Regions from separate parts of the Homo sapiens genome. Here region 2 is linked to region 1. Evidence: fine-mapped expression QTL. A gene starts in region 1. The other region holds a variant in brackets. All regions are shown on one strand. Distances are between the middles of the regions. Region 1 holds the start of BDKRB1-AS1 (BDKRB1 antisense RNA 1). Region 2 overlaps BDKRB2 (bradykinin receptor B2).

What was found. PIP is the estimated chance that this variant, and not a neighbour inherited with it, causes the effect.
Region 2: its variant is fine-mapped to the expression of BDKRB1-AS1 in transverse colon (GTEx, PIP 0.97).

The regions. Positions count from the first base shown.
Region 1 is chr14:96,265,529-96,270,900 of GRCh38, reverse strand. BDKRB1-AS1 (BDKRB1 antisense RNA 1) reads left to right here and starts at 2,321. Exons shown (of 2, transcript XR_007064322.1): 1 at 2,321-2,532. RefSeq lists an enhancer at 1,047-2,246.
Region 2 is chr14:96,223,829-96,229,200 of GRCh38, reverse strand. The region is part of intron 1 of BDKRB2 (bradykinin receptor B2); the gene reads right to left. Among named protein-coding and RNA genes, the nearest start is that of BDKRB2, 22 kb to the right of the region's middle. The variant C/T (reference allele first, on the strand shown) is at 2,757.

The sequences.
Region 1 (5,372 bases):
TCTGATCCCTGTCTTTGGAATCAGCCAAGAGCTGGACACAATACTCCTAATGGACCCTGTCCAGTGCTAAATTAAGGGAATATGACCTTCCTCATTTTAGAGGCTATACTCCTTTGAATGCAGCTGAGAGCTGGCAGCTATTTTGGCAGCTACAGTACACTGAGCCCCTTGTTGACTGAAGCCCTGAAATGTCTTCCTCTCGTACTTGCTGGGTCCCAACCAATCCTTCCTGATAGTTTTCTGTCCCCTGAAGCTCCTGAAAAGTAGGCTTGGCTTCCTGTTTACTGCCTTAAACACAATCCTGGCCATAGGGAGTCTCTGCAATCATCATGGCCACTCAAATGAGAACCCTGGCACTCAGGCCTCTTCTCTGACCTCAGCCTGAGACTGAGACCTGTCACCAGGGCCCAGCGGGCATCTTGGGTCTGAACAGAGCCCTTCAGCAGGAGCCCTGCTTACTCGGTGACCTTGGACAAGTCTGCTTGTCTCTGGACCTTGGTTTCTTCATCTGTAAGGCAGAGTGGTTGAACTTAATGATGCATTCTTTTTAAGGTTTTTAGTAGATTTGCATACAGTGATAAGAAAGATGCCTTGTACTCATTCTTTTTTTTTTTTTTTTTCTGAGACAGGGTCTCACTTTATTGCCCAGGCTGGAGTGCAATGGCACAATCATGGCTCACTGCAGCCTTGAACCCTGGGCTCTACTGATTTTCCCACCACATTCTCCCAAGTACCTGATACTACAGGTGTGCACCCCCATGCCTGGCTAATTTTTGTATTTTTACTAGAGACAGGGTTTCACCATGTTGCCTGGGCTGGTCTTTGAACTCCTGGGCTCATGTGATCTGCCTGTCTCGGCCTCCCAAAGTGCTGGGATTATAGGCATGAGCACTGTGCCCGGCCCCATTATTCTTTACTCAGTTTCCCCCAATAGTAACATCTTACACAAGGATCGTGCCATATCACAACCAGGAGAGTGACACGGACACCATTTTTGGGATTTTATTCAGACTGTGCTTTGACATGCATTCATTTCAGTCATAGTTAAAGCCTCTTCTGCTCATAGGAGAAAATGGTTGTTGGTGCTTGCTGGGGTGGCGCTGTCCTGGTGTCTCACATACATCTCTGACCTTCCTCTTGTCCTTTCTCGCCTTTCCTTCCCTTTCTTTGCCCATTACCTCTTTCCAAAAAGGGAATAAGGCCGTCCTTTTGGGTCACTTAATTTTCACAACGACACAGTGAGGCACTGCTCTCCTCATTCCCATTTTACAGATGGGATGCCGAGTTTCGGTGGTCGGCCAGGCCCATGCGGTGGTGGAGTGAGGACTGGAACAGTGGCATGTGTGACTCAGAGACCTGGACCTCTGACCGGCTGCACTGTGCACTCTGCAGCCCCGCGGTGAGGCCCTTCTTGGGCAGGGGCCTGAGCTGGGGGTGGTCCGGGGAGGCAAGAGGATGCTGAGAAGGAATCAAGGGGGTCTGGAGAAAGGGGCTGGGCACAGGGAAAGAGAAGGGCAGGAAGGAGCTGAAGGTGCACAGAGGCCAGAGCGGAGCTCAGCCGGAGCCAAGGCTTGGATCAGCCCTGGTTGGATGCCCAGGCTCCTCGGAGCTGTGGTGGGAGCAGGGGTGGGGAGGAACACTTTCCAGGGCTGCTTCCGACCTGCTCCTCATCAAATTTGTGACTCATCTCCGGAGAGCAAGAGCCTGCCTGTGGCCATTGCAACATCAGGGAGTTTCCCCGAGGCTGGGATTTGGAGGGCCTTAGTGCCACCCACTCCCCATGATGGATTGGGGTGATGATGGGGCAGGGTGGGGGCAGTTTTCTTACCTTCCCACTGCAGAGAGCAGTGAAGGCCACATATGGCCCCTGATCACGCGGTTCTGGAGCCCAGGACAGACCCAGAGCTGGGAACGGATTGGAGTGAAACCTTGTTCTCTCTTTCTACTTGGCCCTTCTCAGGGAGAGAGTGGAAGCCCACATGGGTGCTGGAGCTGGGGATGCTGGAAGACTATTTGCTAATTCCTCCCTCCACCCCAGGTGTTAGCACCACAGGTGTGGCCTGGGCCTGGCCCCATATGGAACACGCCAGGTGAACCTATCAACCAGATCCATGGGAACTCAGATATATTACCTTTTCCCACAGCATCGATCCTTTTAGTCAAGGCAGAAATTTCTCCCTCTGTAAATGAATAACTGGCCTTCCCCACAGAAGGGCAACAGAATTCTACTGTACGGGTTTGCCAGTTTCTCTCCCACTGTGGGGCCATTTGCTGGGCTTCGGTAAACGTTACTTATGTGCGTCTCATAAATCAGGTGTCTGAGTTCTCAGGCTGTGGCTGCAGTCTACCATTGAATTACATCCCGTGAGCAATGTTGTCCGATTTCACCGGCCAGCACGTTCTTCTCGAGTGTGGGATTGGTTTTTGCAAGACCTCGAAAGGATTTTGATAAGCCACCTGCTTAAGGCCGGCTGAAAAAGAAGAAAGGAGGGCATATGTGGGTCAGCTCACTCGGAATAGAAGAGGAATCAGGTATTATTTTCCCTTTCCCACTCTCTATTCCTGCCTGTTCCTGCCTACTTTTGCCACTTTGCCACAGAGCCTTTGCCCAATGAATTCCTGCCTGGGGGCTTGGAAATCACATTGGTGTTGGAGTCAGATGAGTTGGGTGAATCCAGCCTCTGCAGTCTGAGCAGGCACTGCCTTCCTTAGCCTCCTCTTCCTCACCTAGAAAGTGGACATCCTGAAACAGACCTCACAAGGGAGTCAGGCGATTAAATGAGATGACTGAGCCTACTCCTGTGTGTGGCTGCTGAGTCGCACTGGGTGTGCTTGGGCAGGTCTTACTGCTCTCTGTTTCCTAGACTGTATGTGAAGGGATGGTCTGGATGAGGGGTTGCAAACTTAACCTCCCATAGCTTCCATGCGTGTGAACCTGATGGGAGGGCGCCCTGTTCACGGGGCCTCTGCTACACAGCACCAAAGAATTGGAGCCCCGGGGGGACCCTGGAAGGTCAACTCCAAGGGCCCAGGGATGTTCCTCTCTTTTGTTCACTGCCATATTTTCAGTGCCCAAAACAGTGTCTGACAAAGTAGATGCTTAATAAATATCTGCTGAATGAATGAAATTGAATCAGTGTTGCTGGATGTTCCAAACTTTCAAAAGAAACTGGAAAGCTGGCTCCCAATGGGGAGTTTCAGTACTGGTAACCAACTCAAGAGCCTGGGGGCTTGGAGTTTTAAAAAATACCATGTGGTTCAAATTAAACACATGTGCAGGCTGGATCTTGCCTGTTGGCTCAGCTCCAGGCCTTCTGACGACACTCTGCTCTCCAGGAAACCTGCAGGGGCTGGAACACTGATCACAGGGTTATCACTGATGAGGTCCTGGTGGCCCAGCCGCTGCCAGCCTCTCAAACCCTGTCTCCAGGCTCCAAGAACATGGCATTCTTTCCATTCCTGGAATGAATGAGTCTTTGCTGCTATTCTGTGAGGACCAGCCCTTCCCGTGCAGCTGTGGGGACTGCCATTCTCCCCATTCCCCCAAGTGTCTTGGAGTCCAGTCACTACACCCTCTCCCCCACTCCATGGAAACTGACCTTGGAATGGCCTCCTGGCCCACGGACTCTCTCCTCCCCAGGGCCTGACAATGTCCCGCCTGCCTGTGAGGGCCCAGGTAGGGCCCACCCACCACCTGACCTCTCCATTCTCTATGTTGTCTCCAACCTCCTTCTTCTTCCCTCTACTTCAGCCACCTGGTGCCAGGGATACACTTGGTCCTTGTCATCTCCTGAGATGGCTCTGCCTCTGGAATGTTCTACTCAAACATTCCTGCTCTGTGGCTATGCCTTCCTCTCTCTCTTTTAATGAGACAGGGTCTCACTCTGTCAGCCAGGCTGGAATGCAGTGGCACAATCTTGGCTCACTGCTTGTAGCCCTGACCTCCTGGGCTCAGATGATCCTCTTGCCTCAGCCTCCCAAGTAGCTGGGACTACAGGTGCGCACTACCACGCCTGGATAATTTTTGTATTTTTTGTAGAGACGGGGTCTTGCTATGTTGCCCAGGCTGGTCTCAAACTCCCGGGCTCAAGCCATCCACCTGTCTCAGCCTCCCAAAGTGCTGGGATTACAGATTGCACCCTTTGTGGAAACCAGGCTCACGGCTGATTCCCTTCACAGTGTACAGAAGATCACGCCTGGCTCTTCTTCTGTTTCTTGCTGTCACCCAGGTTCTCTCACTATATCCATCCTTTAACACACTGATCTCACTTCACTTCCTTCTCTCCCTGTGCTCGTTTCTTCCCTCTCCATCATTCCCCCGAGTCTGACCAGGATCCCCAACTCCCATGACGTATGGCCGTCTATCTGGCTAAACCCTACTCCAGAGCAATCCTTTCCTGGGTCTGTCGAGCATTATCAGAGTAAATTCACACAACACAGCCACGCTTTCCAGCTTCAATGGGGCCCTCAAAGCTGCCTGGAGCCCACCATCCTTCCTGGGTGAACTGTCTTTGCCAGCTGACCATGGTGGACCCAGCCTGTCCATTCTCCTCCAGCCCCAATTCTCTCCATGACCCGCCTCCTCCTCTGCCATCCTTCAACCTCTCCCTCCTAACCTGTAACCCCACCTGCCTCTGGGCCTACTTTGTTCCTTCTGTCTGGAACACTCCTTTCCCCCATTTTGCTTGGCCAGCTTCTCATTTTTTGGGATTCAGTTTATGTGTCTCTTCCTCCAGGAACCCCTCTCTAACCATCCCTCCCAGCCACCCAGACTGGAGCCCTGCTCTGGTTCTCACGGCACCCCTCACCCTGATGGTGGCGGGCATCCTGCTCTATGACAATCCCTTAATTATTGTCCTGGTTGCTGTGAGCCCCTGGAGGGTAGAGACACCGTTAGGCTCACCGTTGGGTCTCTCATAGCAAGACCCGCACCAATGCATTACACGTTCAATAAGAGCATGCACAAGCATTCTTTTGTGAGCAGCTCACCCTTTCCCGCCTCTGCCAGCCCTTCCTCCCTGTCTCCACGTATCCAGATTGCACCCTTTGTGGAAACCAGGCTCACGGCTGACTCCCTTCACAGCGTCTTCTCTGCTAACCTGAGAGGGAACCCATCCCCTTTCTCGCTGAAGGCGCAAGATGCTGGATCCGTGGTGTGTTCATGCAATTTCTCATTTCATTTTTTATATTATAATATTTAGATGTATGTAAGTTCCTTGAATATAGAACTTCTAGCTATACCATCCCTGTATTCCTGGCAGTTAGCCTAGAAAGCTTTGAATAGACAAATGGAAGTGTAATAAGAGAGGCCATTACCCGATACTTGTTATTTGTTTCCTGCTGCTGCTATGACAAATTACCAGAAACTCGGT
Region 2 (5,372 bases), 42 kb after region 1:
TAAGAGTTGCTTGTGTTGTTATTTCATTTCTCTGTCAAGTGCCTGACACCTAGTAGGTGTTTAATAAATGGTCGTTGACTGACTGATAGAGGGCAGGGTGTGATCCTTATTTCTCCTCTTCTCCCCAGCAGACATAATTGCTGGGTGGAGGCAAAAGGAAATGGAGCTCACAGTGTGCCCCACCTGTTCCAGCCTCAACACTGCACTGAGTGGCTGATGCATTGCTATTCCCATGTTCCAGATGGGAAAGCAGAGTCAGCGAGGCAACCTGAGACAGTTCAGGTCACCCTGCTCATCAGAGGCAGGGCCAGGATTCAAGCCTGGGTCTGCCTGAGGCCAAGTGTCAAGTCCTTTCTCTGGCTCTGGATTGGCTCCCACCCAGTGAGGTTCTTGGTGCAGGTGATATGGACAGGAGGCAGGGAAATACTGGGTAGAGGAGGACAGCTCTCTGGCAAAAGCCCCACCCACAAGCCTGGGCCCACGGCCCTAAATGAGAACTTCACATTCCTGTTTTCCCACCTGAGTGTTGCTTTTGCCAAAACCACCCTGGCCCACCATGCCCCCCATCCTATACCCATAAAAACCCCAAACTCCACTGGCAGAGGAGCAGAGCAGCATGGCAGAGAAGGAGAGAAGAGAAGAAGTGTCTGAATGTGGAAGAGGCAGCTGGACAGTTGGAGAAGAGTTCAGCCATCTGGAAGAGTACCTTCCCACTCCATCCCCTTTCCAGCTCCCCACCCGACTAAGAGCCACCTCCATCACTCAATAAAACCTCTGCATTCACCATCCTTCAAGTCCGTGTGACCTGATTCTTCCTGGATGCCAGACAAGGACCCAGGTACCAAGAGGGCAGGGTGTAAAAGGCTGTCACCCTCACTCTCCACTGAGTTGGTTAACACTTAGCCATCAGTGAATGGCAACTTCTAAAAGAGCATTAATTGTAACACAACCCTAGACGGTACTGTAGGGCCAGAGCCCAAAAGCGCTTGCCCCGGCCCCAGCACCCACTTGCTTGCATGCTTCCCCTCACACAAGGGATTTGAGCAAGTGAGCCACACCCCTGTCACCGCAAGTCCCAAGAAGGGGTCCAGGGAACTCTCCCTTCTCCCAGGGCAGGCCCCAAGGAATAGTGAGGGATTGAGCAGGTTCACAGGACTGGCTGTCTTGGAGGGGATGCTGTGGCTTATAGCCCTCCAGGGAACAAGCCCTGTGCAGGGGGCAGCTTGGACCTGGGCTCAGCTGGCCACAGGAGTCGGGGGCTGCTGGAAAGTCAGCAGCATAGGTCAGCAAAATTGGCAGCCACCCCGTGTCTCTTCTCTCCCCCAGGGCTCTGATGGGTGTTCCGTCCCTGAGACAATTTGATGACGCAGTTTCCCATCTCCAGAAATCTGTCTCGCAATCTTGCTAGTCACCTTTGATTTGGGGCTTGAGCCGAGTGTGGCCAGCAGGCTACAGAGGAGTAGCCACAGTGTGCACGCATGTGTGTGCATTTGTGTGTGTGTGTGCATGTGTGTGTTTGTGTGCACACGTGTGTTTGTGCACATGTGTGTTTGTGTTGGTGTGTGTATATATGTGTGTGTGTTTGTGTGTGCATGCATGTGTTTGTGTGTGCATGCATGTGTTTGTGCACACATGTGTGTGTTTGTGTGTGCACGTGTGTGTACACGTGTGCGTGCATACATGAATGTTGGAAGAGCATGGGTCAAGTGCCTGGAGATGTCCCCAGGGGGTTGGAACTACACAAGTCTTGTGGTTTCATGACTGAGGCCCACTCCCTATCAGAAGCCCAGCTCCCACTCTTTACCTTGGACAAGTGGCTTAACTCCTCAGGGCCTCAGTTTCTTCATGTGTCAAATGGGGATAATAATAGCACCTACTTTGTGGGGTTAATGTGAGCACAAAGTACATTAATGATTGCAAAGCCCTTAAACAATACTTCACATGCTTCAAACACTCCAGAAATGCCAGTGTTTCCTTTCCCTTTGTGTGACATCCGGTTTCCATCACAATTTTATTGGAGGAAAGACTCCTGGTAGTTAAGAAGAAAATGCCCAACCTCCCCCAGCCTGTCTTTTGCAGAAGGGAAAACTGAGGCCTCGAGAGGTGAAACGATGTCTACAGCCACACGGCAAGGCAATGCCAGCCTGGAGCAAGAGCCCGGGCTTTGCCTGTCTCTTGCTGGAGTGGCTTTTAGGGGTTTGACCCAGGTTAGAGGGACTCAGGTTCTGGGGCCAGGGCTGTAGCCCTCTCGGACACTGCCCGAGGGGCTTTCTGACTTGAGCATAGGGTTATTAGACTGGACATATTCCTCCCTCCATCTTTCTTCCGCCGTTGGAATTCTTGCCAAATTAACCTTACAGAATCCTGGAGTATTAGTGTGGGAAGGGCTCTTGGAAATTATTTCATCAGAATCCCTCATGCTACAGAGATGGGCATGGAGGCCCAGAGACAGAGGGTGGGCATTCTACCAGGACACACAGCCAGTTTGGCTGAACCTAGTTCCTAGGATCTTGGTATTCAGCCACTTTGTAATTTTTTTTTTTTTTGAGACCAAGTCTCACTTTTGTTGCCCAGGCTGGAGTGCAATGGCACGATCTCGGCTCACTGCAACCTCTGCCTCCCAGGTTCAAGCAATTCTCCTGCCTCAGCCTCCCAGGTAGCTGGGATTACAGGCATGCACCACTACGCCCAGCTAATTTTGTATTTTTAGTAGAGACGGGGGTTTCTCCATGTTGGTCAGGCTGGTCTCGAACTCC[C/T]GACCTCAGGTAATCCGCCCGCCTCAGCCTCCCAAAGTGCTGGGATTACAGGCTTGAGTCACCGCACCTGGCCTGCCACTTTGCTTTTTAAAATCGTCCTACAGTGCTCCATTGCAGGTGGAAGACACAGCAGTGTGCTAACATTGTCTGATTGTCAAAACCAAGACCTCATACCCCAGGCCGAGGCAGAGGGGTAGTGGGGGTGGAGAGTGGGGAGCTTACATCAAACCTTAAGAGCAATGGCCTTTGCATGGTGGTCATGATGTCCTCATTCCACTTTCCTGCATGCCATTCATGTATACCAGGAAAAAATAGAAACCCTCACCAGAGAGCAAAACCAAAAACCACATAGAAAGGAAGGCTGCAGGTCTGGAAGAGGGTGTGTTTCCCAGAAAAGCAATTCCTAAGGAACAGCTCAGGCTGGGAAGTGAGCCGTAGCTGGGTGTGTCCAGGAAGGCTGTTTCTCCCGCAGCCTCTCCAGCCCCCTGGTGGTCTCCGGTGTCCTGGGGATGGCACAGGCCCTGCTAGGGTGGGAGTGGAGGGTGGTGGGCGGGGTCTCTGCCTAACCAGTTACTGGCCCTGCTCCTCCACCACGTGCAAACCTGGGCTGTGACCTTCTTCCCACCCAGCTGGGTATACAAAACAAGGAGGAGGAGACACAGTAAACAGAGAACCCTAACTGGTAGGTCACAGAGAAAAAGGAATCCTGAACTGGTTTGGGCCCTGCCCAGCAAGCAGGCCAGAGGAGCCGGGGAGAGCACTGAGCTGGGACAGGTGGAGTTTTATCCCTATCTGCACAGGGTAGTATCTGGGGTCTAAGGGCTTCCCACAACATATCCTAGGTGCTGAAGGGACCTATACTATTGCCCTTTCAGCTCCTGGGAGTCGCTTTCCTGCCCCTTTCATCCGTTCCTTCCTTCATTTTACTCTGCTTAGTGTGACATGGCAGCACAGGCACACACATGGTGGGCAGGGCCAAAAAAAAAATTAGGATATCAAGCGACATCTTAGTGCCACCCTACAAGGGCCACCTCCAATCTCACCTCCTCTAAGAAGCCTTCCCTGATTTCTCAGCCAGCCAAGATCCCTAGTCTGAGACTCTATAGCAAAGAGGTGGAAGGAATATTGTCTAAGGGTCGTAGGCCCAGGACCAGGTGTGCCCTTGGGTAAATGCCTCGGCATCTCTGAGCTTTAATTTCCTCATTGGGAGAATGAGGGGATGTAACAGATGATTCTGGAGACCTTTGTACAACCGTAATGTCTTTAAAGAGGGGGATGCAGTGAACTCCCCATCCTGAGAGGCATGCAAGCAGAGGCAATGGGATCAGCACACTGAGTCTGCAGAGGTTCAGCTCCTCACCCATTGGCATCCAACGGCTCTTCTGGAGATGGGAGGAACAAATCTGTCTTAGCAAGTTCCCCTTCACTGGGTGTGGCACAAAGGAGGCTGCTCCCTGCCTTGCTCCCTGTGGCTTCTGAAGATCCTGGGTCCTGGCCCTGACCTGTCAGTCCTGCTCACAGTCTCGCCCATCTCAAAGCCTCACCCTAGCCATGTGACCTTTGTCTTCTATCCAATTCCGCTCAGGAGGTGGAGCCCCTTGGAATTGAGGGAGTCAACCTTCAGAATTCCAGAGTTCCTGGTTCTGCCAATGTTACGCCTTTTCTAGAAAGGAGCAGGAGAGAAGCATGTTCCTTAGAGCTGATCTGCAGGGAAACGGGCCCAGAATCTCTCAGGACTGGAGAAGCAGAGAAGACAGGAAATGTTGAGCCCTGAGCCCGAGGCAAGAACATTCAGGTCATGCCTGAACTCAGAAGTCAGATGAACTCGGGACATGTCTTGGCTTTGCCTCCACTGACTGGAAGACCTAGGGCAGGTGACTTAACCTCTTGGTAAATAAGGATAACCTCCCTGGAACAAGGCACTGGGAGCACCGTGACAATGTGCAAAGTGCCTGCAACATATCTTCATTTCATTTATATTGTTTCCATATTTTTAAGCACATTACAGAGAAACCCCTGCAATGTAGGGACTAATATTATCATCCCCATTTTGCAGACGAGCAAACAGAGGCACAGCTAGCAAGACTAGAGTTGAGATTTGAACATAAGCAGTCTGGGCCAGAACCTCAGGTGGAGATGATGGTTCTTTTTTTTGCTTTTTAACTTTTTATTATGGAAAATTTGGAATATACCCACAAGTAGATAGACTAGCATAATGAAACTCCACATACTTCACCCAGCTTCAGTAATTACCAACTCGCAGCCAATCTTTTTCTCTATGCCCAAACCTACCTTACCCCTCCTGTAATATTTGCAGTAAATCCTGCATGTCTGTCATTTCATCTGTAAATATTTCACTATTCTTCTCTAAAAGCTAAGGACTCTTATTTCAGAAAGCATAACTAGACAACCATTATCACATCTCGAAGAAACTGACAATAATTCCTAAATGGCATCAACTATCCAGGAAGTATTACAACTTTCAATCATATGAATTTCACGCTACTTTCTTCACAGCTGGTTTTCTTGAATCAGAATGCAAATGACTTTACACATTGGGTTGTTTGATAGGTCTCTTAAGTTTCTTTTCACCTACAGCCTTCCCTGCTATTTCTT